2 linked regions of the Homo sapiens genome follow. The protein of the gene in region 2 interacts with the protein of the main gene of each other region in a pairwise test. Each region holds a gene or a part of one and is shown on either strand. Other genes may lie near its edges. The genes, in order: SLC26A11 and C5AR2.

Region 1 (3,809 bases), on a different chromosome or scaffold from region 2:
TCCCGAATAGCTGGGACTAGAGGTGCATGCCACCACACCCAGCTAATTTTTGTATTTTTAGTACTGATGAGGTTTTACCATGTTGGCCAGGCTGGTCTCGAACTCCTGACCTCAGGTGATCCACCTGCCTCGGCCTCCCAAAGTGCTGGGATTACAGGCATGAGCCACTGTGCCCAGCTGGTTTCCCATATTTTTTACAATAAGCATTTATGATTTTTACAAAATCACCAAAGCCACAGGATGTCTGACTGTGCCCACCTGCTTCTTCCAGGGTAGAGAAGTACTGGAACCCCTTCAGGTCAGCGGACAGCAGGACACGGAGAACGGGGACCTGAGAGACAGACAGACTTTAGCCAGGGCAGGGATGTTCCTCTGTAGCACACGGGTCGGCAGCCTGGTAGACCTGCCATCTCAGAGTCTCCCGGAGAGGTATGGCTTCACCTCCATACCAGTGAATGGTGAGAAGAAACGCAGCCCCAGGGGAATGCTGTCAGAGGAAGATTTTTTTTTTTTTAATTTTTTGTTTTTTGAGACAGGGTCTTGCTCATTGCTCAGGCTGGAGTGCAGTGGCACGATCATGGCTCACTGCAGCCTCAACCTCCCAGACTCAAGTGATCCTCCCACCTCAGCCTCCTGAGTAGCTACAGGTGCACGCCACCACGTCCAGCTATTTTTTCCTATTTTTTTGATGGGGTTTCGTCATGTTGCCCAGGCTGGTCTCAAACTCCTGGCCTCAAATGATCCTCCTACCTCGGCCTCCCAAAGTGCTGGGATTACAGGTGTGAGCCACAGCGCCTGGCCCAGAGGACTTTTTGTTTGTTTGTTTGTTTTTGAGATGGAGTTTCACTCTTGTTACCCAGGCTGGAGTGCAATGGCGCGATCTCGGCTCACTGCAACCTCTGCCTCCCGGGTTCAAGCGATTCTCCTGCCTCAGCCCCCTGAGCAGCTGGGATTACAGGCGTGCGCCACCATGCCCGTCTAATTTTTGTATTTTTAGTAGAGACGGAGTTTCACTATGTTGGCCAGGCTGGTCTCAAACCCTTGACCTCCCGCCTCGGCCTCTCAAAGTGCTGGGATTACAGGTGTGAGCCACCATGTCTGGGTCAGAGGAGTATTTTTTTAAGTGAATCATCTCCAAAGACCATGAAGACATGTGCTCTGCAAATATGACACAGGACGTAACACTTATGAGCGAAGTTCTGAAGGCACATGCCCAAATCTGAAGCCGGGCCCACCATCCTGTGTGACCGTGGGCAGATTACCTGGCTTCTCTGGGCCTCAGTGACCTCTTCTGGACATGGGGATGAAGATAACACTAGCCTCGTGGGCCAGGTTGGGAATGAAGGAAACTCTGACAAGGGTCGGCTGTGGTCCACACCTGGGGTATACGGGTCACTTGGCCTCCTGTTCCATGGCTAGTTCATGAATGTCTCCTCTGGGCGCCTGGGGACACGCCCTAGTCCCCCACGTTCTGCCATCTAGGACTTGGCAGAGAGCGCACATTTAACCACAGCAACAGAGACCCCTGCCTCTCTGCAAACACTGGCCACACCCCTGGGATGTTGACCCTGCAGTGCTCAGAAGGCTCCTAGGTGAGGCCTAAGACGCAGGGCCTGGGACCCAGCCCTTACACTTTACCTGTGGCTCTGAACAGGACGGCCTCCATAGAAACCCGTCTTCAGCCTCTGGAAGCCCTGACAATACGTTTTTCATGAAATTCTATGAGCACCTGTTTTTTTTCGTTTGTTTGTTTTTGAGATGGAGTCCCACTCTGTCGCCCAGGCTGGAGTACAGTAGTGGGATCTCGGCTTACTGCAACCTCCACCTCCCAGGTTCAAGCGATTCTCCCAGCCTCCCATGTAGCTGGAATTACAGGCGCTCGCCACCACACCTGACTAGTTTTTTTTTGTATTTTTAGTAGAGACGGGGTTTCACCATGTTGGCCAGGCTGGTCTTGAACTCCTGACCTCAGGTGATCTGCCCGCCTTGGCCTCCCAAAGTGCTGGGATTCCAGGAGTGTGCCACCACGCCTAGCCTCACCTGTCTCTTTTTGTTTCCTAAAATACAATTCCCCTGAGAGCAGGGACTGACCCTCGTTCACTGTGTGTCCCCAGCACAAAGGACAGTGTGGCAGTGACCAGAAGCCATAACGTGACCCCTCGGAGGGCTGGGGGCCACCGCTCCCCCTTCCACAGGGAGGGACGAGGAAGGCCAGATGGGAACAAGAACTGTTTAAATCAGAAGCAGAGCCAGCACCGGCCGAAGGGCCGTCCAGCATCACAGCCCAGAGATGTCACATTCGCCATGGGAGGCAGGCACAGGAAGGCCTTCCGGCAGCTGCTAACCCCTAAGGCAGCCCAGTGCACACCCACCTGCAGGCCCACAAAGGCCAGGGCGACGCCCTGCTTCTGGAAGTCCTGGAGGAGCTCGCCGAGTCCCAGCACCACAGTGTAGTCGATGCTGCAGACATGGGTGCACTCCAGGACCAGGCAGCGTGGCGGGGACACTGGGGAGACAGGCCCGAGCCAGGTCACGCCACCCAGAGCAGCCCAAAGCTGCTCTGCAGAGGCCAAAGGAGGCTCTGGCCAGGGGCAGGGGACAGAGAGGCCAGAGTGCTCCATCTCGTGGCGGCTGAGTCGCCCAGTTGGGGGATTCGGGTGGCAGGACCAGAGACAATTGTTTGGTGACAGCAGCAGCTGTTTCCCTCCTAGGACTCACAGGCCCTTAGCTCCCCTAAAATCAACCCCCCAGAAACAGGAACCGGACTTTAGGGGCAGGGAAGGAGTGATATGTGGGGGGCCACCACCCTTGCTGCAGCAGCCACTGGCTGAGGCCCACAGAGGACGGTCCAGCCCACTCAGAGATGCCTGCATCCTTGTGGACTGGAGAGCGTTGGGGACAGGGTCTTGGGGTCCTGAACAGCAGGGAGTGGGGGGCAGAGGACAGGGGAGTGACCTCAGACCACCTTGACCCCCGCCCATGCACCTTCCAGGGCCCGGCTTAGGATCTCCTCCCGCAGAGCCTCCATGGCAGGGAAGGACAGGCCGCTGGCCGGCTGCAGGACCAGAACCGGCCCCTCTGACACCTGTGGGGAGGAGTGAGTCCTGGAGGCGGGTCTGACCGGGTGGCCTCCACCAGGCTTGGCCTGTCCCAAGCGGGAAGCCCCCACCCAACCTAGTGTGCTGCAGGGGACCGGGAGAGGGGTGCTAAGGGGAGACCCCCATGGCCCCCACACAGTGGGAGAACACCATGGTTTATAGCAAGGTGACTGCCCACCTGCCAGCGAGCGGTCCCCTTCAGCAGCACCCACGACCACAATCACCCCGGACCCTCAAAACATAAGACCATGCCCAGGAATCCTGCCCCCAGCACACTCCCCACTCAGAGGCCACGGAGGGGTACCTTGGTCTCAGGCCTGGCTGCAGAGTGCAGGAGCATGAGCAGAGACACCAGGGCCCCGGCCAGGATGCCGTACTGCACCTCCCAGAAGCACAGCAGGAAGGTCACGCACAGGGGCAGCAGGTCCAGCCCTAGGAGAAGGGCACAGCTGAGGAATGCCCGGCAGCTGCCCGAGGCCCCAACATGGCCCTGCTGACCAGCGGGACAGCTTTCTGCCCCCCACATATGAGTAAAGGTGCTCATGGACCCCAAGCAGCCCCTGAGGACTTGGGGACAGCAGCTGCTGACCAGGCCATGCTTCAAGTCGAAAGAAAGAAATGCCCTCCCCATCTGAGCTGAGCGCAGGTGAGACCTGCCGGCCGGTCCCTGGCCTCCAACCTCAGGGAGGGCAGCAGCAGGGGCTTGTCAGG
Region 2 (3,809 bases):
CATCTCAAAAAAATAAATAAATAAATAGAATCTTTTATTTATTTATTTTTTGAGACGGAGTCTCGCTCTGTCGCCCAGGCTGGAGTGCAGGGGCTCAATCTTGGCTCACTGTCACCTCTGCCTCCCGGGTTCAAAACGATTCTTCTGCCTCAGCCTCCCAAGTAGCTGGGACTACAGGCATGCGCCACCATGCCCGGCTAATTTTTGTATTTTTAGTAGAGACAGGGTTTCACCATATTGGCTAGGCTGGTCTTGAAGTCCTGACCTCAAGTGATCTACCTGCCTCAGCCTCCCAAAGCCCTGGAATTACAGGCGTGAGCCACCGCAAATGGCCCTATATATCTTTGTTTATAGTCTGTCTTCCTCCACTAGAAGAATATCAGCTCCCTGAGGGCAGGATTTGTGTCTGTTTTGGTCACTGCTATATCTCTAGTGCCTAAAAAGGCCTTGCACATAGCAAGTGCATGATGGATATCTGTTGAATGAAGGAAGGAATAAAATGAAGACATCATTGAGCTCCTGGATCCAGCTATGCCTGAAGCCAGTCTTGTGAAATGAGATAAGAAGATACACACCCACAATGTCTCTCCAGCCTACACCTCCATCTCCGAGACCAGGTCATGGCTGGTGGATTTCTTGCTGTCCACACTTTCGTCCTGGCCCTGGGACTCCCTCAGGGCCCAGTGACAGGCAGCTGGCAGTGACCGGCGGAGTTGAGCCCTCCCAAAATACAGGAAGAGCATGGGATTGAGGCAGCTGTGAGCGAGGGCAAGGCCCACGATGAGGGGTTCAGCCCGCAGGGCCCTGGCCAGGAGTGCGGAGTTCGGGGCCGCCACAGTGAGCACCAGCCCCAGCAGGTGGTAGGGTGCCCAGCAGACAAAAAACCCCACCACAATGGCTGTGCCCAGCGGCCGGCAGCGTCGGGCTGCCCAGCACAGGAGGGCACTGTGGCAGCTGGCCACGGCCACCAGGGGCCCCAGGAAGCCAAAAAGAAACCGGATGGCAGTCACCGCATTCTCGGTGCTGGAGGAGCCGCCGTAGTCCACCACACACTGCAGCCGGGCTGGGAAGTGCTCCTGGTGCAGCCGGCGGTAGATGGCGGAGGGCACGGTGAGCAGCAAGGCCAGTGTCCAGGCTGCCCCACAGGCCACCTGCACCCCGCACGCCCGCTGAACCGTAGACCACCAGGCAGGCCCGAGAGCCAGGAAGCAGAGGTCGGCACTGAGAGCTGCCAGGAGCAGGACGCTGGCATACATGGTCAGCAGGATGATGGAGGGCAGCGCCCGACAGCCCACTGCACCATACGGCCAGTGGCCTCCACGGGCAATGGGCACTGCCAGGATGGGCAGAGACAAACAGCACAGCAAATCCGCCACGGCCAGGTGGAGCAACCAGGTGGCACCCACCCTCCGGCGGGCCACCTTCCCAGCCACCCAGGCCACCATGGCATTGCCCGGCACCCCCACCAGGAAGATGGCGGCATACAGTGGGAGCGGGGCCACGCGCAGCGGGTCGATGGCCAGGCAGGCGCCATCCAGGCAGTCCACAGGGCGGTCCGAGAGGTCGCTGTAATCCCCATACTCGTAGCTGACAGAATCGTTCCCCATTCAGGCTCCTGGTGTCTGGGCAGGAGAGAAAGACGATGAAAACTCAGAGGAGGAAACTCCATGGCCCTGGAGATCTAGGGTGTCCATCAGCCCGGCCCACCAGCACCTTGCAAACTGGAATATTGCGTCATAAGGACTCCAGTGCTTTAGAATATTGGAATTCTAGGCCGGGTGTGGTGGCTCACACCTGTAATCTTAACACTTTGGGAGGCCAAGACAGGTGGATCACTTGAGGTCAGGAATTCAAGACAGGCCAACATGGTGAAACACCGTCTCTACTAAAAATACAAAAATTAGCTGGGTGTGGTGGCGGGCACCTGTAATCCCAGCTACTTGGGAGGCTGAGAATTTCTTGAACCCAGAAGGTGGAGGTGGCAGTGAGCTGAGCTCACACCACTGCACTCCAGCCTGGGAGACAGAGTGAGACTCCATCTCAAAAAAAAAAAAAAAAAATTGGAATTCTAGAACTTAGTGTTGTTAGAAGTGGCATCTTGGAATTCTAGAATATTACAATGCCAGAACCCTAGTACATTGGAATATTGGGGCTGGGCACGGTGGTTCAGGCCTGTAATCCCAACGATTTGAGAGGCCAAGGTGGGAAGATCACTTGAGGTCAGGAGTTCTAGACCAGCCTGGGCAACATAGGGAGACCCCATCTCTACGAAAATTTTTTAAAACATAGCCAGGCATGGTCATGCGTGCCTGTGATCCTAGCTGCCGAAAAGGCTGAAGTGGGAGAATCATTTGAGCCCAGGAGATTGAGTGAGCTTGATCATACCCCTGCACTCCAGCCAGGATGACAGAGAGAGACTCTGTCTCAAAAAATAAAAAAAAATAGGAAAAGAAAGAAAGAAATGAGCAAAATCCAAAATCCACAGTATTTTAGAAGATAATAAATACTATGGGAAAAATATCACACAGGGAAGCTGGCTATGTTGGAGTTGTACAGGCATGGTCAGGGAAGGCTTCTTGAGAAGGTGACATTTGCATAAAAATCTGAAGGAACAGTGGGAGAGATGCATCGAGATCTGGGGGAAGAGTGTTTCAGGCATCGAGAACAGCCAGTGCAAAGGCCCTGAGGTGGGAACATGACGGTCATGTCCAAGAACAGCAAGGAGCCCAGTGTGGCTGGAGTGGAATCTGCCAGAGGGAGAGGGTGAGAGGCAATAGCAGAGTCATCAGGGGCCGGGCACAGTGGCTCATGCCAGTAATCACGGGAATTTGGGAGGCCAAGGTGGGTGGATCACCTGAGGTCAGGAGTTTGAGACCAGCCTGGCCAACATGGTGAAACCCCATCTCTCCTAAAAACACAAAAATAACCTGGAGTGATGGTGGACGCCTGTAATCCCAGCTACTCAGGAGGCTGAGGCAGGAGGGATCACTTGAACCAGGGAGGCGGAGGTTGCTGTGAGCTGAGATCATGCCAGTGCACTCCAGCCTGGGCAACAGAGCAAGACTCCATCTCAAAAAAAGAAAAAAACAAAACAAAACAAAACAAATGAAAAACAGTTATCAGGGGCCACGGCATGTAGGGCCACGTGGGCAACGCAAGGACATCATCATTTATTCCAAATGAGACAGGTGCTATAGGAGGGTGCTGAGCAAGGAAGCGACATAATCTATCATAGCAATAATTTATTTTTTTTGAGACAGAGTTTTGCTCTGTTGCCCAGGCTGGAGTGTGGTGGCATGATCTCGGCTCACTGCAACCTCCGCCTCCTGGGTTCAAGCAATTCTCCTGCCTCAGCCTCCCAAGTAGCTGAGATTACAGGTACATGCCACCACACCTGGCTAATTTTTGTATTTTTAGTAGAGATGGGGTTTCACCATGTTAGCCAGGCTGGTGTCGAACTCCTGACCTCAGGTGATCCACCTGCCTCAGCCTCCCAAAGTGCTGGGATTACAGGCGTGAGCCACCATGTCGGGCCACAATAATATTATTACTATATTATTACTATTTTTTGAGACAGGGTCTGGCTCTGTAGCCCAGACTGGACTGCAGCGGCACTTTCCCAGCTCACTGCAGCCTCCATCTCCTGGGCTCAAGCAACCCTCCACCTCACCCTCCCAAGTAGCTAGGACTACAGGTGCACACCATCATGCCTGATTAATTATTATTATTATTATTATTATTATTATTATTTTGGAGGTCATCTGGTTTCACCATGTTGCCCATGCTGGTCTTGAATTCTGGGGCTTAAG

What was found.
Region 1: the proteins of C5AR2 (region 2) and SLC26A11 interact in a two-hybrid assay, tested with the Homo sapiens proteins (one large-scale study listed by BioGRID and IntAct).

Annotation. Positions count from the first base shown.
Region 1 is NC_000017.11:80,247,851-80,251,659, reverse strand, and holds part of SLC26A11 (sodium-independent sulfate anion transporter), read right to left. Parts: intron 3,531-3,809; coding exon 3,403-3,530; intron 3,086-3,402; coding exon 2,986-3,085; intron 2,507-2,985; coding exon 2,373-2,506; intron 332-2,372; coding exon 259-331; intron 1-258. UniProt on the Homo sapiens protein: Sodium-independent anion exchanger mediating bicarbonate, chloride, sulfate and oxalate transport.
Region 2 is NC_000019.10:47,338,598-47,342,406, reverse strand, and holds part of C5AR2 (C5a anaphylatoxin chemotactic receptor 2), read right to left. Parts: intron 1,921-3,809; exon of another isoform or gene 1,795-1,920; intron 1,623-1,794; 5' UTR 1,608-1,622; coding exon 594-1,607; 3' UTR 1-593.